Homo sapiens: one gene and its partner. The protein of the gene in region 1 interacts with the protein of each later gene in a biochemical or structural test. Each region holds a gene or a part of one and is shown on either strand. Other genes may lie near its edges.

Region 1 (14,913 bases):
CGATGGCACGATCTTGGCTCACCGCAACCTCTACCTCCCAGGTTCAACCGATTCTGCTGCCTCAGCCTCCTAGTAGCTGGGATTACAGGCATCTGCCACCATGCCCGGCTAATTTTGTATTTTTAGTAGAGGCAGGGTTTCTCCATGTTGGTCAGGCTGGTCTCGAACTCCTGACCTCAGATGATCCGCCCGCCTCGGCTTCCCAAAGTGCTGGGATTACAGGTATGAGCCACCACGCCTGGCCATGAACATAATTTCTTTACATTCATTTTAGCACTGAAGTGCCAGGTAACACCCACCCCCGCTGCCCTTCAGTGAAACAGGTGTTTTAGTCCTGTACCTTCGTAGCTGCTGTCAGTACTTCTTGCTAAGGAATTGCCTAGGGTTGTGAAACTGCCCTTAAGAGAATGGTTTTCAGCCTTGGCTGCATGTTGGACTCACCAGGCAAGTCTTTAAAAATACTGATTCCTGGGGTCCCAGGCCCAGAGGTTCTGATTTCACTGGTCTGTGGTGCAGCCTGGGCACCAGAATTTTTTTGAAAACTCCCTGGGTAATTCTGATATACAGGCCAGGTTAAAAGCTTAAGACCTGCTCAGTCAAAGGGAAGATGTCTTCTTCCTGCCTACACTGTTTCAGCTGGGACATCACCCTCCACAAATTCCTGAGTGGAAAGGGCTGTGGTTACTTTGGAAGCCTGTGGCCCTAGAGTTCTGGAACTAATGCCTCGGCAACATACTCCCCAAGACCTGTCTACATGTTTTTCTGTTGTGGGATATGTAGTATTTTGCATCCCACTTTGGTTTTACCCAATCCTTTAAGAAAGGGTCAGCTAAGTTTTGGCCAAGTGTTGTGGTCCATGCCTATAATCCCAGCAGTTTGGGAGGCCGAGGCCAGCAGGTCACCTGAGGACAGGAGTTTGAGACCAGCCTGGCCAACATGGTAAAACCCCGTCTCTACTAAAAATACAAAAATTAGCCGGGCATGGTGGTGCACGCCTGTGGTCCAAGCTACTCGAGAGGCTGAGGCAGGAGAATCGTTTGAACCTGGGAGGTGGAGGTTGCAGTGAGCAGATATCACGCCACTGTACCACTGCACTCCAGCCTGGGTGACCGAGCAAGACTCCATCTCAAAAAAAAAAAGAAAGGGTCACCTGAGTTTTTAACAATCTGATTCTTCAATGAATCCCTTTCCTTTTTACCACAGATTGGCCTGTAACTTTTGCTGGACTTTGGTGCTCTCCTTGATTTTATTTGCTCTTTGCCTTTGGGCCCCAACTTTTATTTCCCACCTTAACTCCTCTGCACGTTTTCTTGTGTGAAATCTCCCAATATGAGGAGAAAGTCAGTGATTTCTGGGTCTATCAAAAGCAGCCATTGTTCAAAGTGTTTTTGTCCTTCTTCACCTCCAGGATGAAGAATCCATCCAGAAGATAAATCCTTCCAAGCCTGGACTCCATCTACCTGGCTCTCCTTTAGTATGTTTCATCTTCCTGTACTTTCTCATAAATTTCAGAAATTTATTCTGCATGCCTCCTCAGGGCAAAGGCATCTCTACCTACAACTGTCACCTTGACACTCACCTAACAGTGCTTGAAGTGTCCTATACTGATCTTTCCCCTCTTAAATCTGTACACATTTTCTAGTTTTTATTTATTTTTATTTTTATTTTTATTTTTTAGACAGAGTTTCACTCTTGTTACCCAGGCTGGAGTGCGGTGGTATGATCTTGGCTCACTGCAACCTCTGCCTCTTGAGTTCAAGTGATTCTTGTGCCTCAGCCTCCCAAGTAGCTGGGATTACAAGTGCCTGCCATCACACCCTGGTAATTTTTTGTATTTTTAGTAGAGACGGGGTTTCACCATGTTGGCCAGGCTGGTCTCGAACTCCTGACCTCAGGTGATCTGCCTGCCTCAGCCTCCCAAAGTGTTGGGATTACAGGCGTGAGCCACCACACCTGGCCATTTATTTTTATTTTTTTAGAGACGGGGTCTTGATATGCTGCCCAGGCTGATCTCAAACTCCAGGGCTCAAGGGATCCTTCTGCTTCAGCCTCCCAAATCACTGGGATTACAGGCATGAGCTACCACGCTTGGCCCACATTTTCTGTTATGACTTGACAGAACCTATAAAAGCAATTGGAGAACTATTTAAAAGACAATTTCCCCAAGGGTTTATTGAATCTGAGCTCTTACAGTGGAGAGGGGGACAAGGGATGGGGGGAACATATGCCAATCTATTTTCTGAGCTCTTCACACTCTGCCTCTGTTATATTTCCTTGGAACCCAGTTACCATATCCGGTAGGGTCATAACCAACAAGGATCCCTCTTCTGCACCCTCCTTTTAAAAGCTTTAGAGACCTAAGTTCATGTTCTTTCCTGTTCCATTTCTGTCTTCCCTATACTTTAAGATCTTCCTCCAGTTAAATTAGCCTGTATTCCTTTATTTTTCTTTTATTCATTCATTGCTTCCATACTGATAGTAAGATTGAAGCATCTTCTACAAACCACTCCATTTCCTCCTAGATTTTGAGAAAACTCAATTCCTGGAAAGACAGCATACTAGGCGTAGCCCTTGGGCTTCCGAATTTGCAGTCAGTTCACTGAGTTGTTGTATACTAGGCATATGCCTTTGGCTTCTGCATTTGCAGTCAATTCACTGAGTTGTTGTATACTAGGCATACCCCCACCTCTGGCTTCTGACAGTATACTAGGCATACCCTTTTGGCTTCTGAATTTGCAGTCAATTCACTGGCCTCAATTCCAAAGTGGTGCCTTCTTTATGGAAGGGTCACCATCCATTATTTGTTCATTGGGGGAAAAAAACCCTACAGTTACTCCTCCGTGAATAAAGCCCAAAGCCAGATCTCTGAAAAGTCTGGAACTTTCAAAATGCAAGCCATGATCTGGGCTTTCATGACCTACTTGGGGACCTTAGTTGGCAGCAAAACTCCATGGGTTATACCACATGCATCCAAGTGGTATGTAAGAAGTATAACCCTTTTTCTAACAGTTTAGAAAGAACAATAATCTGGGGGGAGGGGGAAGGAGGGAGGAAAGGAACAAGGGGTGAAAAACTAACTGTTGGGTACTGTGTTCACTACCTGCTGGCGGGACCAACTGTACCCCAAACTTTAGCGTCACTCAATATACCCATGTAACAAGTCTGTACGTGTACCCCCAAATCTAAAAGTTGAAATTATATTTTTAAAAAAGAACGATAATCGTGAAGATAGCTAAATTTCCTCTCTTGACCATGAATGTAGTTTAAAACAACATAGAGAATAAGAGAATGAGGCAACTGTCTGCCTATGCCTAGCACAAAACTCCAAGCTCAGAGAATTCACCTGTGTTTGGAGTTTATTTTCTAGTCATCAGTGATTACTAAAAATAAATGACTTGTTCTTGATAGTCTAATCCCTTTCCTACCCACTCTCTTAAGCCAAAGCTGCTCTCAGTAGAGCCACCATAGGACCATGGTCTGCCTGGCTTATATCAGTTAAAAACCAGGTATCGTATTTAAAAACTTAACACCAGCCCGGCGCGGTGGCTCACGCCTGTAATCCTAGCACTTTGGGAGGCTGAAGTGGGCGGATTGCTTGAGCTCAGGAGTTCGAGACCAGCGTGGGCAACGTGGTGAAACGCCATCTCTACTGAAATACAAAAAATTAGTCAGGCGTGGTGGCAAGTGCCTGTAGTCCCAGCCACTGGGGAGGTTGAGGCACAAGAATCACTTGAAATGGGAGGCGGAGGCTGCAGTGAGCTGAGATCACGCCACTGCACTCCAGCCTGGGCGACACAGCAAGAGTCTGTCTCAAACAACAACAACAACAACAACTTACACATTCCATAATAAGAAATCAAATTCTAAAACCTGCCTGGACTGCCTCAGACACCTAGATATCCTCATGTCATTCTGGTATCCAATGCCAGTTCTCCTCTTTTCTTCAAAGACAGTGCACCAAGATTTTAGGGAGCCAGTAACAGTACCTTTTTTCCACATCCAATTTGGAGCTAATTAAGAAATAAGACAGGCCGGGCACGGTGGCTCATGTAATCCCAGCACTTTGGGAGGCCGAGGCAGGCAGATCACAAGGTCAGGAGATCGAGACCATCCTGGCTAACATGGTGAAACCCCGTCTCTACTAAAAATACAAAAAATTAGCTGGACGTGGTAGCAGGCACTTGTAGTCCCAGCTACTCAGGAGGCTGAGGCAGGAGAATGGCGTGAACCTGGGAGGCAGAGCTTGCAGTGAGCCGAGATTGCACCACTGCACTCCAGCCTGGGCAACAGAGCAAGACTCCGTCTCAAGAAAAAAAAAAAAGAAATAAGACAGAGGCCGGACACGGTGGCTCACGCCTGTGATCCCAGCACTTTGGGAGGCCGAGGCAGGAGGATCATCTGAGGTCAGGAGTTCCAGACCAGCCTGGTCAACATGGTGAAACCCCGTCTCTACTAAAAATACAAAAATTAGCCAGGTATGGTGGTGGATGCCTGTAATCCTAGCTACTCAGAAGGGTGAGGCAGGAGAACTGCTTGAACCTGGGAGACGGAGGTTGCGGTAAGCAGAGATTGCACCACTGCACTCCAGCCTAGGTGACAGAGCAAGACCCTGTCTCAAAAAGAAAAAAAAAGCAAGAAGACAAATGGAAATTAAAATGTTTGTTTTTACTGATAGCATCAACTGGAGAACAGAACCTTAGCTCTGTAGCCAAGTCTGGATAATATACAGCTGACCAAGAGCAGCTTACCAGCTAGTTGAGTGGAGACCAGAACTCCATCTTCACTACAGGAAGACAAATGTGAGAAGGTCCCAGAAAGTACTGAGCCAAGCATGTCAGTTCCTTCACTGAAACTCCTCAATATTCAAGTCCCTCTTTTTCCTCCCATAGCAGAGACTGACAGTGTTTCTCCCATACTGTTCCCTCCCCAAAAATGAATTAGAAGCCCCCTCCCCTCTGTAGGAGCAAAGGAGAGGAAGCAAATGGGAGGGGAAAGAATACAAACCTAAATAATCTGCGTAAGAGTAGGAATGACAGTTTCCAGCCAATAAGGTTATAAGGACTCTCTCAGGTTCCTCAGTCAGAGTCAAACAATATAAGCCCATGAAACATCATTACAGTCAACAAAAGCAAGAGGAAAGGTGTTCTGTTTCTTTGCAAGAGCAGCAGCCCAGCTCTCTTTCTGGCACAGTGCCAGGATTTTCAAATGGCCTCAAGGTTCAGCTGTCTTTGCTTCTGTGTGTGTATAATCTAATATGTTTTCAGAATCCCTGTGGGGAGAAAATACTTCAAAATGCTCAATTTAAAGAATTCACAAATTTACCACAAATTTTCAACCCTAAACTTTTAATGATTCCATTAAATATATTATCAACCAGCCAGACTAGAACGAAGAATCAGAAAAGCTATGGTAGTTTCCATGAAGATTAAATGACAGGCTGGGCGCAGTAGCTCACACCTCTAATCCCAGCACTTTAGGAGGCCAGAATCACTTGAGGTCAGGAGTTCAAGACCAGCCTAGCCAAGATGGTGAAACCCGGTCTCTACTAAAAATACCAAAAAAAATTAGCTGGGTGTGGTGGTGCACAACTGTAGTCCCAGCTACACAGGAGGCTGAGGCAGGAGAATCACTTGAGGCGGAGACTGCAGTAAGCTGAGATGGTGCCACCGCACTCCAGCCTGGGCAACAAAGAGAGACTCCATCTCAAAAAAAAAAAAAAAAAAAAAAAAAGATTAAATGACAGCCAGACACAAGAGAAGTATAGGGGGAGAGTGGGAAAAGAAAGTTTATGAGTATGAAAACAGACAACTAGGCCAGGTGCCATGGCTCAAGCCTGTAATCCTAGCAGTTTGGGAGGCCAAGGCAAGTGGACTGCCTGAGCTCAGGAGTTTGGGACCAGCCTGGGCAACATTGTGAAACTCCGTCTCTACTAAATACGAAGAAAAAAAAAAAAAATTAGCCGGGCATGGCAGCTACTTGGGAAGCTGAGGCAGGAGAACTGTTTGAACCCGAGAGGCAGAGGTTGCAGTGAGCTGAGATCGTGCCACTGCACTCCAGCCTGGCGACAGAGTGAGATTCCATCTCAAAAAAAAAAAAAAGAAACAGAAAACTAAATGATCTAAGTCATTCACTTTTTATTAAACTAGGTAAATAGCAAGGTAATAATAATGCCATAGACTCTTCTCGTAAGAGTCTATCTTGCTTGCCAAAACTCTAATATGTTACTACACAGTCATTCACTTTTTATTAAACTAGGTAAATAGCAATGTAATAATAAACCCATAGACTCTTCTCATAAGCGTCTACCTTGCTTGCCATAACTCTAAGTTAAATATATTATTTACACAGTTATTTTAAGGATGAACCTAGAAGTTTTAAATTCAAAAATAATTGTCTCAGATGCTACATGAATCTACAAGGACCAAGGAGCGATACTGTTCTTCCATCAATGAAAGCTTCCTCAGAGAACTCACCCACTATATGTCCAGGGTTTGTTTCAAACTCTGGACAACCTTCAGTTTGCTAAAACTCAATGTCCTGTGTTAAACGACAGGAAAAAGATGTATTAAATCTTAGCAACGGTGATATAAAATAATCGGTTTTACAGTTTAATCTTGGTTAGGTTAAACTTTCCTACATAACTAAAAGCAAAGCAGAAAAAACAGTTGATAAAAAAGCAAAATCTTTATCCTTTTTTTTTTTTGTTTTGGTTTTTTTTTTTGGAGACAGAGTCTTGCTCTGTTGCCCAGGCTGGAGTGCAGTGGCGCAATCTTGGCTCACTGCAAACTCTGCCTCCCGGGTTCACGCCATTCTCCTGCCTCAGCCTCCAGAGTAGCTGGGACTACAGGCGCCCGCCACCACATCCAGCTAATTTTTTGTATTTTTAGTAGAGACAGGGTTTCACTGTGTTAGCCAGGATGGTCTCAACCTCCTGACCTTGTGATCTGCCTGCCTCGGCCTCCCAAAGTGCTGGGACTACAGGCGTGAGCCACCGCGCCCGGCCTCTTTATCCTATTTAGAGCCATTTGAGAAACATATGCTCCTTAGAATGTGAAAGGATTTCTTATCAAAACTGCTGCTTCAACTGAAATACAATATGCAGGGACCTAACTCTTTCTTAGTGACCAAATATCCGACCATATACCACAAAGGAAGGAATTCTACATCCTAAATTATTTCTCTCATACCATTTGGACATTAAGCAGGTTGCAAAAACAGATGATGAACTCTAAAATGTAATACTTTTAGACAAGACATTGGCCAAACTGATCGATTATTACAATAACATGTGCTATAGATACAAATGTTACCTTCCTCATGCTTGGGTTTTTGTTTTCTTTTAACAGTATACTTGATCCTTAGTACCACTCCCCCACCTTTCAGAGAAAAAAAAAGGAAAAGGAATTACATTCAGTAGATTACTTTCTCCTTGATATCTCATTTTGAGCTTGGAAGAACCCAGATTAGCACAATTAATGGTGAGATCAATATAAATAAGGAAAAATGGGAAAGAGGATTAAATCAAATTAACACAGGGCACCAATTTGGATTTTTTTTTTTAATCCCTTATAGGAAGTTGATTGGATGTTACTGCAAGGTTAAAAAGTTACTTGAGTCTGAGAGGTAAGACCTATTTCAAAACATCAGTTTCTAAACCAAACCAAACCAAACCAAACCAAAACGCCAAAGGGAGAAAGTAAATACCCATTCCGTACATATACTAAAACCAGCTGCTCCAGGTTTGAGTGAACATGTACTTATCCATATAATTGCTTAGCTTTTCTTGTTTATTTTTAACTGCTTAACTTTTTTTTTCCTTTTTTTCTTTTTAAAATAATTTTTAATCGAGACAGGGTTTTGCTATGTTGGCCAAGCTGTTCTCGAACTCCTGACCTCAAGTGATCCATCTGCCTTGGCCTCCCAAAGTGCTGGGATTATAGGCGTGAGCTATTGCACCCGGCCAGGTATACTTGCTTAGCTTTTAATGTAATTTTAATTCCACAGAAAGAAGTATTTCCTTACATGAACATTCACATGTTAGCATTCCATGACATCAGGAATCAGTCTCTGCCCAGAAATCTACAGATGAGCATACCCACAATTAAACAATTTCAATATAAATCAACATTAAGTTAAATAATAAACATTTAACAGCCCAAATCCTCAATGGTGTAAATCCAGTTTCACAAAAACAAAAGCATCATTTATAACTGTCATCTGGCACAGGCTGATGTCTATTCAGGTCCATATTTTGCTTCTGAAAATACGTATCTTTTCTATAATTTCAATTGCCACCAAACTTTGTTTCTAAAATTTCATCTTAGAAAGTAGTACCTTCCACTTCAATTCAAAACACACGTCTGTTTTCAAAGAACTTGTTTAAAAATTTCAACACTGGACCTGTCTCTAATTCTTTCCTTCGATAGCTAGTTCCTTAATGGGCCACAAATTTAATATTAATAAAGATACTGATTCTTCGAGGCATTATATATAAAGATCCCTGCTTTGTTTTTGGATCTTAACACAGCAGAGGGTGGTTTTCAGGAAATAAAGCTACTTCTAGATACTTTAATAGATATTTCAAGCTGTAATAATATTTTATAACTAAACTGGAAAGTTAAAAATAAGCTTTTACAATATCCTCATACTTCAAGGCACAGTTCCAAAGTTACCTATTCCAAAAATATTCCTTGCTTTCTGTAGCCAGAAGTATCCTTTCTGGCTCCTGTGTTTTGTCCCTGCCTTTTTTTTTTTTTTTTTTTTGATACCTATAGCCTTCTGCCTTGTAATATGGTTACTTACAAATAACTCTTCTTTTGAATGGTAAACTGCCTTCCTAAGGGATGAGACTGTATTTTGAATTACTTCTCTTCACCATGTCTCCCTCTTGGCTAACGCACAGAAAACGTTCAACAAAACATGTGCTGAATTTCTGTGACCAGCTGACACTCTTTTTCAATCTTCTATAGTAAATCTTTGACGCTTTATGGAGACAGCGTTAATCTAGCAGCTCACCTGCTAGATTACCCACCCCCAGCACACCTCTGCACTGAGATTAACGAAACCATCTAGGTCTGAAAGTTATCATCACCTTATGACTCATCCCACTTGGTTTGAGTTCGGCAAATGAATCAATACCCTGAACTGACTGCTGTTCACAAAGCTCTTCAGAACTCTCAGTGATCGGGTTGAGAATCATCTCTCAGAAGTAGGCCGGAAACCCCGCTCCCCTTTCCCCTTTTCTTCAACTTCTCATCAGTAATGCTCCCACGCTCTCACTCCCACCTTGGAGAACTCAAGCTGCCAAATTCCTTGCTGCGTTTACCTAGTGGCGATGGAGGCACATCCAGCCTTCTCTAGTTCGCGGCCCCGACGTGCAGCCTACGAAGCACCCCTTCCGGGTGGCATCCCCACCCTGAGAGTTCTTTAACCCGTTAGCCTGGCCCTAGCCTCACCACCCCCTGCACCCCTCCTGTTCTCCTCGGTCCCACGATGTCCCCAACACTTGGGTTAGTTCAAGGACTCGGGGCGGGAAAGGGCACGCCGCGCGCCAAGGGACCGAGGCTCAGGCGAGCCCTGGCGGCTCTGCCTCAGGCCCCCGAGGAGGCGCACAGGGCCCGGCGCAGAGAGGGGCCCACCCGGCGCGAACGCTAGGGACGCCCGGCTTCTCCCCACCGCTCGGGTCGCTGACGGGGGTGGCACTGGAGGAGCTCGAGAGGGTCCGGCAGCCTGCCCTGGCTCGGTTGGGGCACCTGAAGCCGGGCAAGCGACCCCCCTCAGCGCAGCTCTCCGAGATGACGACTAGGTAACCGCTAAGGCGGAAAGAAAGGAGGCGCTTCAGGTGCCCTGGCAGGATAGGATTGGCGAGGAGGGTCTGTCCGGCTCCACCGGCCCCTCACCTTCATGGCCGCGACCGCCTCAGCTCGGCCGGCTCTACCAGGAAACTCAGCACCATAGCAGCTCCTCACACTGCCGACCTCCTTCCCTCTGGGCGGTGATTACCGCGCCCCGGGAGGCGACCGAGCGTCCGGACGTAAGGGGCGTGGTCACGCTCGCCGCGTGCCCCGGTAAAAGCGCAGAGCGGCGGCCACGACGACCAATAGGAAGCCGACTTTCGGGAGGCCGGTCACCAGAGCCAATGAAGCGACAGGGATTGGGCGGGGCCTCTGGCGTTCCTCCTGGCTGGGAGTGCGCGGGGAGGATTCTTTTCCGCCCCGAGCGAAGACCTGCGGACCTGGGCGTGGCGGAAGGCGCGCTGCGGCGCTGCTTTCTCGGTTGGGTGTTTGAAATGGGAGATAGCGTCCCTGAGGAAGCTGCTGCGGCTTTCTGGGCTAGGTGGTCAAGTTTCCGGGGAGGGGAGCGCGGGAAGGGCCGTGGTGAATTTGAACACGCCGGTTGGCTCGAAGGCCTTTGTTATGACCGTCAGAGCAGGGCCTCAGATTTCCTTCCCAGACGTTCCCGCGTTCATGCTCGGTGATGACCTCGGGGCTCCTCACTCGTGGGTCCGGTAAGGAGCGGCAGCTGCACTCGCTAGGACGCGGCCTTTAAAAACAAGACTTATTGAAAACACTTAGAAAACCAAGGGCTCTCAAATCCCAAGGGCTCTTTGAAAAGCTGTATTCAAAATAACCAAAATCGTAGCATAATAAAAGAATTTGCTCGAGTCTTGGAATTGCCTTTGGACAGAGAAACTGAGGTTGTAAATTAAGGTATCGATTTCTTCAGCTGTACTGGATGACAGTTTATTTTCCTACACCTTTTTTTTATTTTTGACAAGGTCTTGCTCTTGCCCAGGCTGGAGTGCAATAGTGTGATCTCGGCTCACTGCAACCTCCGTCTCCCGGGTTCAAAGGATTCTCCTGCCTCAGCCTCCCTAGTAGCTGGGACTTCGTGCGCCCGCCCCACACCCGGCTAATTTTTTCTATTTTTAGTAGAGACTGGTTTTCACTGTGTTGGCCAGGCTGGTCTAGAACTCCTGGCCTCAGGTGAGCCGCCCACCTCGGCCTTCCAAAGTGCTGAGATTAGCCACCGGGCCCAGCCGATTTTCCTACACTTTTTAATCTCACCTCTAACTTAACCAGTATTTAAGATTTTAAACATAAAAAAGTCAGTTCGCTCTTCATGAGGACCTAAGACTGTTCTGTTATTTATATACATTATAGATTTGCTTCGACAAGTTGTGCTATATTAGATTAAAACACACGGAGAGAGAGAGAGTGCGTGGCAGGCCACTTCCTTAGACTGAAATAATGCATCAGAGTATGTATTTCTCTTGCTTCAAGTGCTGCTCAGATAATGTCACTTCTTATCCATAATAGTCCTAGGTTTTTTTTGGAAAAATGTACAGAAAGCCTTTCATTCACGATGTAGGACGCAGCTGAGCTTCATTGGAAGAGAAAGTATTAATTAATTCTCCTAATGATCTAGACACAAAGCAACTCAATAAAAATGTTCTTGGGGTACAAAGCCATGGTTGTCCCTCATTAGAAAAGGCCTGGCAGGTCTACCTCCAGAGTTAATAAGCACATGAAAGATGCTCAACATCATTAACTATCAAGGAAATGCACATCAAATCCATGGATACCGCTGTGCGCCTGCAAGGATGGGTAACATTAAAAAGAAAGAAAATAGATGGTGAGGATGTGGAGAATTTGGAATCTTCATACATGAATGGTGGGAATGTAAAATGATGCAGCTGCTATGAAAATGCCTGACAATTCTTAAAAAAAAAAATTTTTTTTTTTTTGAGACGGAGTCTCGCTCTGTCGCCCAGGCTGGAGTGCAATGGCGCGATTTCTGCTCACTGCAAGCTCCGTCTCCTGGGTTCACGCCATTCTCCTGCCTCAGCCTCCCAAGTAGCTGGGACTACAGGCGCCCGCCACCGCGCCCGGCTAGTTTTTTGTATTTTTAGTAGAGACGGGTTTCACCGTGTTAGCCAGGATGGTCTCGATCTCCTGACCTCGTGATCCGCCCACCTCGGCCTCCCAAAGTGCTGGGATTACAGGCGTGAGCCACCGCGCCCGGCCCAAAAATGTTAAAACATACAGAGTTACCATAAGACCCAGAAATTCCACTCCTAGGTGTATACCCGAGAGAAATGAAAACCTAGGTCCACAGAAAAACGTACATGCTAATGGTTCTTAGCAGCATTATTCATAATAGTCAAAAAGTAAAAACAACCCAAATGTCCATTATCTGAGAAATGGTTAAAGGAAATGTGGTCTCTCTATGCAGTGGAATATTATTAGACCAAAAAAGGAATGAAGTACTGATACATACTGCAACATGGATGAACCTTGAAAACATCATGCGGCTGGCTGAGTACAGTGACTCACTCCTGTAGTCCTAAGGCTTCAGGAGGCGGAGGCGGGCGGATCACATGAGGTCAGGTGTTCGAGACCAGCCTGGCCAACGTGGTGAAACCCTATCTCTACTAAAAATACAAAAAAAAAAAAAAAAAAAAATAGCCGGATGTGGCGACGCACGCCTGTAATCCCAGCTACTCGGGAGCCAGAGGTGGGAGAATCTCTTGAACCCAGGAGGTTGAGGCTGCGGTGAGCCAAAATTGCGCCACTGCACTCCAGCCTGAGCGACAGAGCAAGGCCCTGTCTCAAAAAAAAAAAAAAAAAGAAAAGAAAAGAAAAGAAAAAGAAAATAATAATGCTAAGTGAAAAAAGCTAGATACAAAAAGATTATATATTGTATGATTCCATTTACAGGAAATGTCCAAAATAAGCCAATCCATAGAGATAGAAAGTAGAGTAGTGATTAAGGTCTCTGAAGGAGGAGGGGGGAAATGGAGTGACTGCTACTAGACACAGGTTTCTTTTGGGGTAATGAAAACATTCTAGGAGGCTGGGCGCGGTGGCTCACGCCTGTAATCCCAGCACTTTGGGAGGCCAAGGCGGGCGGATCACGAGGTCAGGAGATCCAGACAACGGTGAAGCCCCATCTCTACTAAAAAATACAAAAAATTAGCCGGGCGCGGTGGCGGGCGCCTGTAGTCCCAGCTACTTGGGAGGCTGAGGCAGGAGAATGGCGTGAACCCGGGAGGCAGAGTTTGTAGTGAGCCGAGATCACGCCACTGCACTCCAGCCTGGGTGACAGAGCAAGACTCTGTCTCAAAAAACAAAACAAAACAAAACAAAACATTCTAGGCCGGGTGTGATTGCTCATGGCTGTAATCTGAGCACTTTGGGAGGCTGAGACGGGAGGATCACCTGAACCCGGGAGTTCGAGACCAGCCTGGGCAACATAAGGAGATCCCATCTCTACAAAACATAAAAACAAAAATTAACTGGGTATCGTGGTGCACACCTGTAGTCCCAGCTACTCGGGAGGCTGAGGTAGGAGGATCACTTGTGCCCAGGAGGTCGAGGCTGCAGTGAGCCACTGTACTCCAGCCTGGGTGACAAAGCGAGACCCTGCTCAAAAAAAAAAAAAAAAAAAGGAAAAGAAAACGTTCTAAAATTAGCTATGTGAATGGTTGTACAGCTCTGTGAGTATACTAAAAACTACTAAATTGTATAATTTAAACGGGTGTATTATATGGTATGTGAATTATATCTCAATAAAGCTGTTAATATTGAGGAACACAAAAAGAAGAGTTAATGCAGCTGGAAAGTGGCCACAGAAGGACAATGAAAACAACAAAGGCTAGGGAGAAACTTAAGTATCAGGGGAAAATTTAAAACAGTGCAATACTTGGGAAGACTTGTCTTATTTTGTCCCCAGCACACAGATCTGTACCTAGCATAAGCAAGCTCCCAGTAAATTGTGTTTGGTTTTTTGTTGTTGCTGTTGTTTTTGAGAGAGTCTCCCTCTGTCACCCAGGCTGGAGTGCGGTGGTACAATCTCTGCTCACTGCAAGCTCTGCCTCTCAGGTTCAAGTGATTCTTCTACCTCAGCCTCCCGAGTATCTGGGATGACAGGTGCATGCCACACATCCGGGTAACTTTTTTATTTTTAGGAGAGATGAGGTTTCACCATGTTGGCCAGGCTGGTCTCAAACTCCTGACCTCAAGTGATCTGCCCACTTTGGCCTCCCAAAGTGTTGGGATTACAGGCGTGAGCCACCGTGCCCAGCTGAATTGTATTTTTTTTTTTTTTTTTGAGACGGAGTCTCGCTCTGTCGCCTAGGCTAGAGTGCAGTGACGCGATCTTGGCTCATTGCAACCTCTACCTCCCAGGTTCAAGTGATTCTCATGACTCAGCCTCCCGAGTAGTAGCTGGGGTTACAGGTGTGCACCACCATGCCCAGCTAATTTTTGTATTTTTAGTAGAGGGGTTTCACCATTTTGCCCAGGCTGGTCTCCAAGTCCTAGCCTCAAGAGATCCCCCTGCCTCAGCCTCCCAAAGTGTTGGGATTACAGGCATGAGCCACCACACCCACCCATCAATAAAAGTTTGAGTGAATACTTTTTTTTCTGGAAGGTGGAGAAGGAAAATGATTTAAAAAAAAAAAACATAAGGGAGTAAATAGGTTACACATGAGTTTACAATGCCTACCTACCTGAAGTTGGGACCTTCTGAAGTTGAGAGAGATTTGTGCTTAAATATCACTCTTTTTTCAATGAAAGAGATGCATTTTGTGATCATAGTTTTTTCTTTGTTTCAAATTTTATATAATGACCCTCTTTTTTTTTTTTTTTTTTTTTTTTTGAGATGGAGTCTTGCTCTGTCGCCCAGGCTGGAGTGCAGTGATGCAATCTCAGCTCACTGCAAGCTCCACCTCCGGGGTTCACGCCATTCTCCTGCCTCAGCCTCCTGGGTAGCTGGGACTACAGGCGCCCACCACCACGCCAGGCTAATTTTTTGTATTTTTAGTAGAGACAGGGTTTCACTGTGTTAGCCAGGATGGTCTCGATCTCCTGACCTCGTGATCCGCCAGTCTCAGCCTCCCAGAGTCCTGGG
Region 2 (15,291 bases), on another chromosome or scaffold:
CGTCTCAAAAAAAAAAAAAAAAGATTCAATACCAGGGTGAGGAGTTTTGACATGGAAAATATTCTGTTTTCAATGGGAAAACCACTGAACATTGCTTTTGTTTTTTTTGTTTTGTTTTGTTTGTTGTTTTTGAGACGGAGTCTCGCTCTGTCGCCCAGCCTGGAGTGCAGCGGCGCGATCTCGGCTCACTACAAGTTCTGCCTCCCGGGCTCACGCCATTCTCCTGCCTCAGCCTCCCAAGTAGCTGGGACTACAGGCGCCCGCCACCACGCCCGGCTAATTTTTTTGTATTTTTAGTAGAGACGGGGTTTCACCATGTTGGCCAGGATGGTCTCGATCTCCTGACCTTGTGATCCGCCTGCCTCGGCCTCCCAAAGTGCTGGGATTACAGGCGTGAGCCACCGCGTCCGGCCCCTGCTTTTGTTTTGTTCTGTTTTTTGAGACAGTCTCGATCTGTTGCCCAGGGTGGAGTGCAGTGGCATCACCTGGGCTCACTGCAACCTCCGCCTACCAGGTTCAAGCAATTCTCCTGCCTAGCCTCCTGAGTAGCTGGGATTACAGGGGTGCACAACCACATCTGGCTAATTTTTTGTATTTTTAGTAGAGACAGCATTTTGCCATGTTGACCAGGCTGGTCTTGAGCTCCTGACCTCAGGTGACCCACCCACCTCAGCCTCCCAAAGTGCTGGGATGACAGGCATGAGCCACCAAATCCAGCCAATCACTGAACATCCCTGAGTAAAATATTATAGTAGCTTTGTTTCTGAAAAATTAAACTAGTAGCAGGGTGAGCTGGGATGACAGGCATGAGCCACCAAATCCAGCCAATCACTGAACATCCCTGAGTAAAATATTATAGTAGCTTTGTTTCTGAAAAATTAAACTAGTAGCAGGGTGAGGCTATCTGGAATTGGGACTAAATTCAGGTTGGAAGATTAGTTAAGAAGCTACTGAGGTAATCCCCAAGAAGAGATTATATGGGTCTACAGTGAATAAACTTTATATCTGCCCAGAATTTGTCCCTTTATTTTGGTAAGAGAACCCTGATTTTCCACTGAGGAACCACCTCTCTACTACTTACTCTGGTCCATGAGGTTCCAAGATCTCACCCTCCCTTAGGATCCAGGGTTGGGCACATAACTTAGGCCTGACTAAGCAGAATAGCCCATACCCCGACCACAAGAACAGAAACATAACTCAAGTCAGTCCAAAAAGAGTCAGCCCCGGGATTTTTGCTTTTGCTGGAGCTGCTGGGACTGCATCTTTCTTGTTGCTGGTATTGCTAAGCTTGGAGTTGCTATGGTAACCTGTAGAATAGTCTACCTGAGAATGAAAACAACACATCTGGAAGCAGAGCCCAGAGACAGAGACAAATTCTTAATTTGAACACCCATATTTGGGCATTTCTGAAGCAACAGTACACCCTAGATTTTTTTTTTTTTTTTTTGAGAGAGAAAGTGGGACCAGGGGGCCATCACGAGTGTGGATGCTGTGCCAAGGCCCGGAGCTCTGGGAGCCCACACCATTTATTGATGATCAAACAAAGAAACAGGTGGTGAGGATGTGGGGGTTGAAAGGAAACAGTGTATCAAGTGAATGAGAAACATATGGCTGCTTGAGATAATGGGAGTGCTAGAAGCAAGGAGCCAGCAAGTCTAGCAGACATGCAAGCCCTGCATCAGCTTCTCTCCCAACACTCAGCTTTTCTCATTAAAATATCTTTTTTTTTCATATTTTAAAAGCATCTTTTTTTTTTTTTTTTTTTTTTTTTTTTTTACAGTTTCAACTATTTATTCAACACCTTAGTGAACATCTGCTCAGTGCGGGCATTATTATGTGTTAACTAGAGGTTTTTTGTTTTTGTTTTTGTTTTTATTGATCATTCTTGGGTGTTTCTCGCAGAGGGGGATTTGGCAGGGTCACAGGACAATAGTGGAGGGAAGGTCAGCAGATAAACAAGTGAACAAAGGTCTCCGGTTTTCCTAGGCAGAGGACCCTGCGGCCTTCCGCAGTGTTTGTGTCCCTGGGTACTTGAGATTAGGGAGTGGTGATGACTCTTAAGGAGCATGCTGCCTTCAAGCATCTGTTTAACAAAGCACATCTTGCACCACCCTCAATCCATTCAACCCTGAGTGGATACAGCACATGTTTCAGAGAGCACAGGGTTGGGGGTAACGTCACCGATCAACAGGATCCCAAGGCAGAAGAATTTTTCTTAGTACAGAACAAAATGAAAAGTCTCCCATGTCTACCTCTTTCCACACAGACACGGCAACCATCCGATTTCTCAATCTTTTCCCCACCTTTCCCCCGTTTCTATTCTACAAAACCGCCATTGTCATCATGGCCCGTTCTCAATGAGCTGTTGGGTACACCTCCCAGACGGGGTGGTGGCTGGGCAGAGGGGCTCCTCACTTCCCAGTAGGCGCGACCGGGCAGAGGCGCCCCTCACCTCCCGGATGGGGCGGCTGGCCGGGCGGGGCCTGACCCCCCCACCTCCCTCCCGGACGGGGCGGCTGGCCGGGCAGAGGGGCTCCTCACTTCCCAGTAGGGGCAGCCGGGCAGAGGCGCCCCTCACTTCCCGGATGGGGCGACTGGCCGGGCGGGGGGCTGACCCCCCCACCTCCCTCCCGGATGGGGCGGCTGGCCGGGCGGGGGGCTGACCCCCCCACCTCCCTCCGGGACAGGGCGGCTGGCCGGGCAGAGTGGCTCCTCACTTCCCAGTCACCCTAGATTTTTTAGTACTATAAGCCATTATATTTGGAAATGGAGAGAAAAAGAAGGCTTCAAAAGAAAAATTAGGAACAGAATTTTAGACCCTGGTGACTGCTTACATATGGGAAATAGAGAAGAGCGAAATGTCAAATGTCACTCTGACGCTCTGGCATGTTGAGTGAGTGGAAAATGCTATTAACAGAGATCAGAGGAGGGGCAGGTTTTGGTCAGTGGAATAAGCTTAGTTTGGAGATGCTAAAACGGATCTTACTCCTTGAATTCTGACTGTACCTGGATCACGGTGCCAGGAGCACTGAGCAGTACATGTACCTGAGCTGCAAGCTCAGCAGTAGACTGCATGGCCAAGGCAGTCTAGGGAGACAGTACACTGCATGGCCAAGGCGGTCTAGGGAGACAGAGCAATGCCAGAAAGACCATTCCTTTAGCAGTTTACCAGTCTAGTAGTTTGGGTATTTTTGAGACGAGTCTCACTCTGTCTCCCAGGCTGGAGTGCAGTGGCGTGATCTCGGCTCACTGCAAGCTCCGCCTCCCGGGTTCACGCCATTCTCCTGCCTCAACCTCCCCAGTAGCTGGGACTACAGGCGCCTGCCACCACGCCTGGCTAATTTTTTGTATTTTTAGTAGAGACGGGGTTTCACTGTGTTAGCCAGGATGGTCTCGATCTCCTGACCTCGTGATCCACCCACCTTGGCCTCCCAAAGTGTTGGGATTACAGGCGTGAGCCACCGTGCCCAGTGTAGTGTAGTAGTTTTACCAGGCAACCTCAAAATAACTGGCATTTAGGAAACGGAGGGAAAGTGAAGTATCATCCCTAAGCCCCAGAGCATCTGGCTGGAGTGATAGCTAGACGGAAAACAATAGGGAAGCCCATCACCTAAGCACACTACCGGGGAAGTGGGAAGCTAAGCCAACACTCTAGGTCCCAATGTGTTCAACTCGGATGAAGGAGCCACTGAAAGAGGAAGAACAAGTGATACCCTTGCAAACAGTCACTTGTGGGGGAGACCCTCGCCTTATTTCAAAAAAACTAGCAAGGGGTGGATTCGACATTTTTCCTACTTCCTACGTATCAGGCTCTCAGGAGCTTTATGCACATTGTTTTATTGAATCCTCAGAACTTCTCAGGCAGGAAAGCATTATTCTTCCTACTCAGGCAGGTTACGTAAAGTAACTTGATCAAGTTAAGCCAAATTAATCCGTGAACTAGGATTCAAATGCAGGTCTGACTTTAAAGCTTATTCACGTTTCATTATATCAACTACTTAAGGAAAATACACTGAAAAGTTTCATCCTTCATTTTTAAAATGACACTACCGGCTGGGCACAGTGGCTCATGCTTGTAATCCCAGTGCTCTGGGAGGCCAAGGCAGCAAGATCCCTTGAGGCCAGGAGTTTGAGACTGGCCTAGGCAACATGGTGAGACTCTGTCACTACAAAAAATCTGAAAAAATTAAAAATTAGCTGGGAGTGGTGGCACACACCTGTAGTCCTAGCTACTGAGGAGGCTGAGGTGGGAAGATCACCTGAGCCCAGGAGTTTGAGGCTGCAGTGAGCTACGATTGCACTATTGTACTCCAGCCTGAGTGACACAGTGAGACCCTATCTTTAAAATATATAAATAAATAAATAAAAATGATGCTATCTCATCAAGAAGACTGTTTCTGAACTGGGTATTTCATTGGCCATAGAAAGGTTATGTTTGCAGTAACCCAGTCACAAAGCCTCAATTAATAGGCACAAGGAATGTGTATTTACCAGTTGTGTATCTGGAGCTAAGGAGGCCATCAGTACCATGAAGCCTCATTAAACAACGCATTCTGAATTAATCAGCCGCCAACACAGTATGCCTATAACAATGACGGGAGTGACTTTGTGAGGATAACCCCACTACTAAAATTAAGTTTTGATTAAAGTTTTTTGGTTAAGAGGCAATCATAAAAAGAATAAAAGACGGGAAAAGATTCTGCAAAGGAGCTATCCTACTGGCCTGAATGACAGGCACAGAATGCTGTGAAATTTATTCACTATCTTATACTTCCGTTGTTACTATTAGCATAGTGAGAGGCAGCATAGGGTGAGTATTAAAAGTACAGACTCGGGCCGGGCACGGTGGTTCACGCTTGTAATCCCAGCACTTTGGGAGGCGGAGGCTGGTAGATCCTCTGAGGTCAGGAGTTTGAGACCAGCCTGGCCAACATGGCGAAACCCCGTCTCTACTAAAAATACAAAAAATTAGCTGGGCGTGGTGGCGGGCACCTGTAATCCCAGCTACTTGGGAGGCTGAGGCAGGAGAATTGTTTGAACCTGGGAGGCAGAGGTTGTAGTGAAGCAAGACGGTGCCACTGCACTCCAGCCTTGGCGACAGAGCAAGACTCTATCTCAAAAAAAAAAAAAAAAAAGTGCAGTCTCTTGGGCCGGCATGGTCGCTCATGCCTGTAACCTCAGCACTTTTGAGAGGCCGAGGCTGGAGAATATCTTGAGCCCAGGAGTTTGAGACCAGCCTAGGCAACATAGTGAGACCCTGTCTAAAAAAAGAAAAAAAAAAAAAAGCGCAGACTCTGGTGCCGAACTGCCTGGGTTTGAATCCAGTTCTGCCAGGGATTCGCTGTACAACCTTGGCAAGTTACTTACCCTGTCCATTTCTCAGCTTTCTCATCTGTGACACAGCAATAACAGTAGTACCGACCACATACAATAGTTATAGGGATTAAAGAAGTTAACGCAGTATTCATATCTTAATACCTTAAAACAATTCCTGGCATGTGGTAAATAGCATTTGTTACATACATTAAAAAAATAACTAACCCAGCCTCCCTCACATGAAGTGGTAGAGGGAAATCAAAACAATCCTAAAACGTGTTTAGAATTTACATGGGACCTTTCACACGAAGCACGTCACAGACATCTGCAGGAAGAATAAATAGTCAAATAGGCAAAGCAGAAACTGAAACATGGAAAAGGGAAGTAAGATGTTCAGTTTCACTTAGCACAAATCATTCTCAGATCTCAGGCAGGAGCCCCAAAGTCCTGTCAGTCCAGGTTTTGTTCAACAGGCCACTTTGCACATAAAAGTAGAGTCACCCTTAAAAATAGCAAGTCTTCACCCAGGAACATCTCATAAATCTTCCCTTGTTGATATTTTCTCAGAGGTAAATATTCTGCTTCTAGTTTTTGGATCCCAGCTGCTCCTGAGACCATCATTATATCTGAAACTGTTTCTAAATGTCAAGTGAGGTCAGGCCTGGTGGCTCACACCTGTTAATTCCAGCACTTTGGGAGGCCGACGTGGCGGGGGAGAATTGCTTGAGCCCAGGAGTTAGAGACCAGCCTGGGCAATATGGTGAGACCCTGTCTCTACAAAAAAGTTTTTTAAAGTAGCCAGATGTGGTAGCTGGCACCTATATCCCCAGCTACTTGGGAAGCTGAGCTAGTATAATCGCTTGAGCCCAAGAGTTGGAGGCTGCAGTGAGCCGTGTTCACGGCACTGCGCTCAGCCTGGGGGACAGGGTGAGGCTGTGTCTCAAAAAATAAAATAAAAATAAAATAATAAATGTCAAGTATGACTCCCTTAAGCCACATTCCTGCTCTCGCCTGTCAGCATTCCAGCCTCTTTAAAAAAGATTAAGACCAGAGTTATTAATGAAGCAAACCCTAAATATGGAAGGCATCTCTACAGACTCCGATTCATCATTTAGTCAAAGTAGTTCGGGGTTTCTTTGGCTTTTTGTTTTTTGAAGACAGGGTCTTCCTCTGTCACCCAGGCTGGAGTGTAGTGGTGCGATCTCGGCTCAATGCAGCCTCGACTTATTGGACTCAAGTGATCCTCTCGCCTCAGCCTCCCGAGTAGCTGGCACCACAGGTGAGCACCACCACGCCGAGCTAATTTTTGTATTTTTGTAGAGACGGGGATCTCCCTAGGTTACCCAGGCTGGTCTCAAACTCCTGGACTCAAGCGACCCGCCTCAGCCTCCCCCAAGGTGCTGGAATTACAGGTGTGAGGCACCGCACCCGGTCCAAAGTAGTTTTTATATTTTAAATCCCCCAATTTCTAGAAGATATGAGCTTTCTGACATGGTTCCATATAAATAAATGTGAACTTGCTTAGTTTGCATTGTGAGGAAAAAGGGACAGGTTTGAAGACGAAAAGGAAATGGCACAGAGGTCCTGCCACTCTCTGACAGGGATTCGGCAATGACAAAGTGCAGAGTTTCTGGTCTCATTAGCAGTCCCCGCCCCACCGCACTGCCATGACACTCGCTCACTTTCTCCCCAGGCTCTCCTCGCCTTCATCCCCATGCTCATCTCTGCCTAAGCTTCTTCCGAGGCCACTCATAACGCTTCACCTCTGCTCCCAGGAATTCTCACATCCTCTTCGCGTTGGCCCCACTTGCTGTCACGGCAAGTTTCAGTCCGGGTGGTGCCCTGCCCCTGTCTATAGACTCTGGCCTGTAAAACCTCACTGCACCCCTCTGGCCTCTTCGCCCAGTCTCTCAGCTGCCACCTCCTCTCCAGCAGTCTTGGATCTGAGCTTCACCCTCCTCTGCTGCCCTTGCCCTCCGCAAATCCCACCCACCCTCCTCACCCTAAGCCGGTTCCTTCGTCCCATCCCCGCCCCGCCCGTCCTTCCTCTGCGAAATGCTTCCCAAACAAGTCCTCCGCAGCCGTCGTCCTCAAGACTCGTCGCGCCCGGCCCTTCTCTCCGTGACCCCGCGCCCTCCCAAGCCTCCCGGGGCTCCGGCGCCTGTCGCTGCCCCGACTCCGCGGCGGCTCCCAGCCCACCTGCTCTCCTCAGGCAGGCGCTCCTCGCCGCCTCCGAGCTCCATTCCCGCGCCCTCCGGCCGCATCCGGGGCGGTGAGGCCGCCTCTTCGCCCAAGAGAGGCGTCCCTGCCGCTTCGCCCTTCAGGGCTCCCGGGGCCCCCTGGGGCCGGAGGAGGCACCTGCGGCCGGTGGGCTCCGGGTGATGCGCTACACCCGGGCGGCGACAGCGGGAGGGACCGCCGCCTGGGCTGCGGCTTCTATCCCGGCCACCCCCACTTCCGGCTCCGGGGACTACAGCCCCCGGCGAGCACTCCGAGGCTAGGCCGCTCCCGCAGGACGCGTCCTCCAATCCCAGGCCGCGCTCGCAGACCGCGCCCCTCCAACGGCAGGCCGCTCCCGCAAGCCGCGCCCTCCAATCCCAGGCCGCTCCCGCAGGCCGCGCCCTCCAATCCCAGGCCGCGCTCGTGGATTACTACGCACCCGGTGGTTGGCTGGGCCGGCTTGCAAGCGGCGGGGGACCTTGGTCTCAGGAATCCGTGCCGGGGCGTATCCTTATTCACCCCCGTGACATTACACGCTGGGGACCGAACTCAGTCCGAGATGTAGACTAGGCAATAACGCTAATCTAATCCCGGTACGATTAACCCCACTCAGCCCGCCCTGGCTTAATGTCCGCTGGTGGTGTTTGGAGACCTCGAGCATTTAAATGAAGCGCTCACAAACAAGAGCACAGGTTGCTTTGGGATCATAAAAGAGCAGGAGAGAAAGGCTTCTGGGGGCTCTCGGAAGATGGATGTCAACGCAGAGTTTTCAAGGCTGAGTACGGGTTAGCCAGGAGAAAGAAGAGAAGGTGGAGAGAGCAACACGGCAGATACAAGGAAGGAAGTGCTGGCTTGGGAACTGCAGGTGCTGGGTAGCCAGAGCTGGGAAGGAGTGAGCAGCAGCATGGTGTGGGCATTCTGGTGTGGGGAAACCAGATCATGAAATGCCATTTTAAGGAGTTTGGATTTTATCCTGAAAACAATCAGCAAATCAAGCATATGCAAATCAAGAAGTGATTTGATCGAATCTGATGAGAAAGCCACTTTTGACAATGTGGACAGGAGATGGGGCAGATATAATACTATATTGAGGTAACGGTGGAAGGCTAGATAGGAGACTGGTCATCCTTATGGGGGATAACCAAGTAATGCTAAGAAGTGAAGCGAACCAGTTGAAAGAAACGTGGGCCTAGGGTTGCCAGATACTCTGGTTTCTCTTTTTTCTTTTTCAAAGACGGGGTCTCTCTCTGTCGCCCAGGCTGGGGTGCAGTGGCGCAATCATAGCTCCCTGCAGCCTGGAACTCCTGGGCTCAAGCAGTCCTCCTTCCTCAGCCTCCTGAATAGCTGGGACTACAGGTGCGAGCCACCACACCTAGCTATGATATTTTGATTTTTTAAAAGAAGCTAGGATCTGCATTTTTAAGCACTACTTCCAAATTTTTAAACGTTGGCAACAAATTTTTTAAACTTTCAACTTTGCACAGGCCAAACACAGCTTGTCTGTAGGCTGAAGGTGGCCCTTGAGTTGCTAGTTTGCAAACCCAGGCTTAAACTACAGCAGCGGTTGAAGAGAACAAGGAGGCTCAGATTACAGCAATGTGAAGGCAACAGAATCAGCACTACTCTATAAAGGACTGACTGTGGCAAGTGAGGGAGAAAGAGCGATCAAGAATAACTCCGTGAAAAACTAATGACTCTATATTAAAATAATATATGGCTTTTAGGTATTTTCAAACTTGACAAAAGTGTTTTGGCAATTAAAAATGAAATGAAAGAGCCTCTTGAAGCCATTTATGATTTCATTTAGGTTAAAAAAATACTCTCTTTCAAACTTTCTCATTTTCCTACTAAACGATTATACTTCTTTAAGAAAGGGGCAATATTACTCATTGGGATTTCTCTTCCTTCTGTGACTTTCTTCTCTTTTGGAGACGCAGTCTTGCTCTGTCACCCAGGCTGGGGTGCAGTAGCGCTGCCACAGTTCACTGCAGCCTCAACCTCCTCAAGCGGATCCTCTCACCTCAGCTTCCCAAGTAGCTGGGACCACAGGCAGTGCCACTATGCCCAGCTAATTTGTTTTTTTTTTTTTAATTTTTGGTAGAGACAGGGTCTCACTGTGCTGCCTAAGCTGGTCTCAAATTCCTGGGCTCAAGCAGTCCTCCTGCCTCAGTCACCCAAAAAGTATTGGGATTACAGGCATGAGGCACCATACCTGGCCTTACTTCTAGTTCTATAAATGTATGAACTTTATTTTTTGGCATACAGTATAATCCCAAATTAACACTATATTATTTATTTATTTATTTTTGAGACAGAGTTTCACTCTTGTTGGCTAGACTGGAGTGCAATGGCGCGATCGGGTTCAAGCGATTCTCCTGCCTCAGCCTCCTGAGCAGCTGGGATTACAGGCATCCGCCACCACGCCCGGCTAATTTTGTATTTTTTAGTAGGGACAAGGTTTCTCCATGTTGGTCAGGCCGGTCTTGAACTCCCGACCTCAGGTGATCCGCCGGCTTCGGCCTCCCAAAGTGCTGGGATTACAGGCGTACTAAAAAATACAAAAAAATTAGCCGGGCATGGTGGCAGACGCCTGTAATCCCAGCTACTCAGGAGGCTGAGGCAGGAGAATGGCTTGAACCCAGGAGGCAGGGCTTGCAGTGAGCCGAGATCGTGCTACTGCACTCCAGCCTGGGCGATAAGAGCAAGACTTCGTCTGAAAAAAGAAAAAAAAAAAAAGGCCGGGCGTGGTGGCTCATGCCTGTAATCCCAGCACTTTGGGAGGTCAAGGCGGGCAGATCACGAGGTCAGGAGATGGAGACTATCCTGGCTGACACGGTGAAACCCCGTCTCTACTAAAAATACAACAAAAAATTAGCCGGGCGTGGTGGCGGGCGCCTGTAGTCCCAGCTACTCCGGAGGCTGAGGCAGGAGAATGGCGTGATGAACCCGGGAGGCGGAGCTTGCAGTGAGCAGAGATCACGCCACTGCACTCCAGCCTGGAAGACAGAGCTAGACCTGGGCGACAGAGGGAGACTCCGTTTCAAAAAAAAAGGCAATCAGCTTTATCAGGAAATCCTAGGGGCCAGAAGCGGTGGCTCACGCCTGTAATCTCAACACTGGGAGGCCCAGGCAGGCGGGTCACTTGACACCAGGAGTTCGAAACCAGCCTGGCCAACATAGTGAAACTCTGTCTCTACTAAAAATACAAAGAAAAAATAGTCGGGTGTAGTGGCACACGCCTGTAATCCCAGCTACTTGGGTGGCTGAGGCATGAGAATCGTTTGAACCCGTGAGGTAGAGGTTGCAGTGAGCTGAGATTGTACCACTGCACTCCACCCTGGGTGACAGAGTGAGACTGTCTTGGGGAGAAAAAAAAGAAATCCAAAAACTAAAATTGTAGCAAAAAGGCTGGAAAACAGGCTTTTTCTCATATGTCCAAGTTCAAGTTACATGTACTGGATTTTCTTTAAAGCCATTAATAAACATGACAATAATCTGCACTAGCCATGCGTTACCTATCCCATCCCTCTACTTTCCCTCATAATCCTGAACCCCTTCTTTTGTTTTTTTTTCTTTTGAGATGGAGTCTCGCTCTGTCACTCAGGCTGGATCATGGATCCACTGAAAATACAAAATACAAAAAATTAGCTGGGAATGGTGGCAGACGCCTGTAATCCCAGCTACTCGGGAGGCTGAGCCAGGAGAATCTCTTTAACCTGGGAGGCGGAGGTTGCAGTGAGCTGAGGTCATGCCATTGCACTCCATCCTGGGCAACAAGGCAAGACTCCATCTTAAAAAAAAAGAAAAAGAAAAAGAAATTTTGTAGTATAATTGGCAAAATTTGAACATGAACCATAATTGGATAATAGTACAGCATCAATGTTAAATTTTCTAAACTTGGTAATTTTAGCATGGTTATGTTAAGGAATATCCCTAGAAATATATTCTCTTTCTTTTTTTTTTGAGACAGAGTCTTGCTGTGTTGCCCAGGCTGGAGTGCAGTGGCACAATCTCAGCTCACTGCAACCTGTGCCTCCTGGGTTCAAGCAATTCTCCTGCCTCAGCCTCCCGAGTAGCTGGGATTACAGGTGCCCAACACCACGCCCAGTTAGTTTTTATATTTTTAGTAGAGACGGGGTTTCATCATGTTGGCCAGGCTGGTCTCGAACTTCTGACCTCAAGTGACCTGCCCACCTCAGCCTCCCAAAGTGCTGGGATTACACGTGTGAGCCACTGCACACAGCCCTTAGAAATAGATTCTAAAGAGTCATAATTCCTGCAACTTTCTCTCAAATTGTCTAACAACAACTAATACCTCTATACAGAGAGAAAGCAAATGTGGCAAAACATTAATTGGCGAAGTAGAGGATATATGGGTATTCATTGCACTATTTTTGCAACTTTTCTCTACATTTGCAAGTTTAAAAAATAGTCAAGGTTCTGCTTTCATGGGGACCTAAAAAAATAGTCAATGATCTTAGTATGGTTTTGTTTTCTTATGACTGTATCCTGCTAAATATAACAAAAATTTTAGTGTTTCACATGGAAATTTTTAATCTTGTAATGATTAACTTTAAAGACAGTTTAAAATTAATTTATGTTTTCCCCATAGGTAGCATTTCTAAAAGTCTTTTAAGCCAATTTTGCCAAATGACCAATTCACTGACTTTACCAAATTTACTGATTTACCAAAATTCTTTTTCTGTTAGGCATATATAAAGCTTATAGTAGTTCATCTGATGAGATGATTTTAAAAGCTTTTGAAGAATTTTGCCAAGTTTTAATTACTTAGCTTTTATTCTGTCTTTATAGCAACATTTCCATCCCCTCTAAGCACTTAGTAGTGGTTCATTTATTCAATTATATAGGAACTGGCTGGGCACAGTGGCTCATGCCTGTAATCCCAGCACCTTGGGAGGCCGAGGTGGGAGGATCACTTGAGGTCAGGAGTTCAAGAACAGCCTGGCTAACATGGTGAAATCCTGTCTCTACTAAAAATTCGCCAGGCATGGTGGTGGGCGCCTGTAATCCCAGCTACCTGGGAGGCTGAGGCAGGAGAATCCCTTGAACCCAGGAGGTGGACATTGCAGTGAGCTGAGATCGCACCACTGCACTCCAGAGATTGCACCACTGCAACAGAGCAAGACTCCATCTCAAAAAAAAAAAACCCCAAAAAACTATATAGGAACACTTGCCAGCCACGAACGGTGGATAAAAATGTGTGCTTTTTCTTTTTTTTTGAGACGGAGTCTCGCTTTGTCACCCAGGCTGGAGTGCAGTGGCGCAATCTTGGCTCACTGCAACCTCTGCCTCCCAGGTTCAAGCGATTCTCCTGCCTCAGCCTCCTGAGTAGCTAAAATTACGGGCGCCCGCTGCCGCCTGGCTAATTTTTTGTATTTTTAGTAGAGACGGGGTTTCACTGTGTTAGCCAGGATGGTTTCGATCTCCTGACCTCATGATCTGCCCACCTCGGCCTCCCAAAGAAAATGTGCAATTTTTAATGTTAAAATGAAAATTTTAAAAATCTTATTTCTAAGCTGAGTGCAGTGGCTCACGCCTGTAATAGCAGCACTTTAGGAGGCCGAGGTGGGCGGATCGCTTGAGGTCAGAAGTTCGAGGCCAGCCTGGCCAGCATGGTGAAACCCCATCTCTACTAAAAATACAAAAATCAGCTGGGCTTGGTGGCGGACGCCTGTAATCCCAGCCACTTGGGAGGCTGAGGCAGGAGAATCACCTGAACCTGGGAAGCGGAGGTTTCAGTGAGCCGAGATCCCACCACTGCACTCCAGCCTGGGTGACAAAGTGAGACTGTCTCAAAAAAAAAAAATCTTATTTCTAGACTGAGCAAATCCTTAACATAGTTGACGAATGTTCGTTTTGTCCCTGCCCCAGCTTCCTGCAACTCTCGCTGAGTAAAGCTGCACAGAAGGGACCCTCCACTGCATGAAGAGGGTCAGAGCTTGAGTGGCTGCTATGTGCAAGACGCTGTGCTTTAGTTAGTCTCCCCCAGCCTGGGCTCCTCATCCCAGAGCAGGGAACCTGCGGGGCACAGAGAGAAGAAGCCTGGGAGAAGGAGGAATGCCTGAAGACCCGCGACCCAAGAATCCTGGCTCCCTGAGCCTTCCTGGACTACAAATCCATCCAGTACAAATTGAGGATATCTTCGAAAAACAAACAGTTTTATGTAAATGGGTGGAATTTTGCACTTTATGTAAATTTGTTTAGCTTTGGAAAATGCCACAGTTGGTCATTCAGTGAGTCAATCTAGAACCCCTGGTGGTCAAGACTCCTGCCTTCCCTAGGGAGGGCAAGGCCTAATAAGCTGAGAGGTCCCACCCCTGAGTCCAGGAAGAATTCCCCTTCAAGTTCCCTTGTCCACCCAGAGCAGATTCCCTAGTCACACAGAACTGATGCTCAGGGACTTAGTGGCCAGTAGTGCTCCTTTAAACTTGCTAGCTGAGGCGGGCAGGCTCCTCCGGAGCTCTTGAGTTTCTTAAGGGCAGCAGCTATGCCTGCAACCCCGTCTGTCATGTTCTCTGCAGTATCCCCAGCCTCTAGCACAGTGTCTTGAGTTTCTTAAGGGCAGCAGCTATGCCTGCCACCCCGTCTGTCATGTTCTCTGCGGTATCCCCAGCCTCTAGCACAGTGTCTTGAGTTTCTTAAGGGCAGCAGCTATGCCTGCAACCCCGTCTGTCATGTTCTCTGCGGTATCCCCAGCCTCTAGCACAGTGTCTTGCACATAGGAGGACCTCGAACTCTGTTGAATGAACGAATAAATGAACAAACAAATTTTGAGATTAAAAGGCAGAAGACTAGAACAGGAAAAGTTTACAACAAAGGAAAAGGGCAACACAGAAGAGGGACAGAAAGCTACAGCAAAGTGGCAAAGAAAAGCTACTGCAGCAGAAGACAGCAGCAGACAGGTAGAATGGAAAAAATTGAACAGAAAAGAGAAGAAAACCTGTAGTGTATATATAAGTAGTTTAAGGGTGCTACGAATTAGCTATTGTTTATTAATAACTAATATTGGCCAGGCGCGGTGGCTCACGCCTGTAATCCCAAAACTTTGGGAGGCCGAGGTGGGTGGATCACGAGGTCAGGAGTTCAAGACCAGCCTGACCAACATGGTGAAACCCCGTCTCTACTAAAAATACAAAAATTAGCCGGGCGTGGTGGCGAGCGCCTGTAATCCCAGCTACTTGGGAGGCTGAGGCAGGAGAATTGCTTGAACCCGGGAGGCGGAGGTTGCAGTGAGTCAAGATTGCGCCACTGGACTCCAGCCTGGGTGACAGAGTGAGACTCTGTCTAAAAAATAAATAAATAAAAAATAACTAATATTAGCTAATAATTAGTTATTATACCTAATACATATTATCTATATATCATATAATATAAATTATACCATACTTCTTTAATATACCAGTATAATACATATTACATCAATATGATTTCTAGATATCCTCTTTTGAAAAGCAAAAGAGTTAACATAAGAAACAGACAAATGAATTACAAGAAAAGGAAATTACATACCAGTGTCACTCATGAAAAGACAAAATTCTTGGCAAAATATTAGCAAGTCAAATCCAACAACATGTAAAAAGGATAATATACCATGACCAAGTAGGTTTATCCCAAAAATGCAATATTTGGAACATCAACATTCAAAAACAAAATCAACATTCAAAATTTGATAGCCAATGTAATTCGCCATATTAATACATTTTGCAAGAAAAACCTTTTGATAATCTCTAGATA

What was found.
Region 2: the proteins of RNF34 (region 1) and RUBCN form a complex in vitro, tested with the Homo sapiens proteins (one study listed by BioGRID).

What each region holds. Positions count from the first base shown.
Region 1 is NC_000012.12:121,395,205-121,410,117, reverse strand, and holds the start of RNF34 (E3 ubiquitin-protein ligase RNF34), read right to left. Parts: upstream 10,001-14,913; 5' UTR 9,906-10,000; coding exon 9,900-9,905; intron 8,080-9,899; exon of another isoform or gene 8,023-8,079; intron 7,377-8,022; exon of another isoform or gene 7,320-7,376; coding exon of another isoform or gene 7,311-7,319; intron 5,270-7,310; exon of another isoform or gene 5,005-5,269; intron 1,658-5,004; exon of another isoform or gene 1,643-1,657; coding exon of another isoform or gene 1,409-1,642; intron 1-1,408. Other genes in the region: KDM2B (lysine-specific demethylase 2B), read left to right, coding at 1,409-1,642. UniProt on the Homo sapiens protein: E3 ubiquitin-protein ligase that regulates several biological processes through the ubiquitin-mediated proteasomal degradation of various target proteins.
Region 2 is NC_000003.12:197,729,140-197,744,430, forward strand, and holds the start of RUBCN (run domain Beclin-1-interacting and cysteine-rich domain-containing protein), read right to left. Parts: upstream 7,766-15,291; 5' UTR 7,581-7,765; coding exon 7,516-7,580; intron 1-7,515.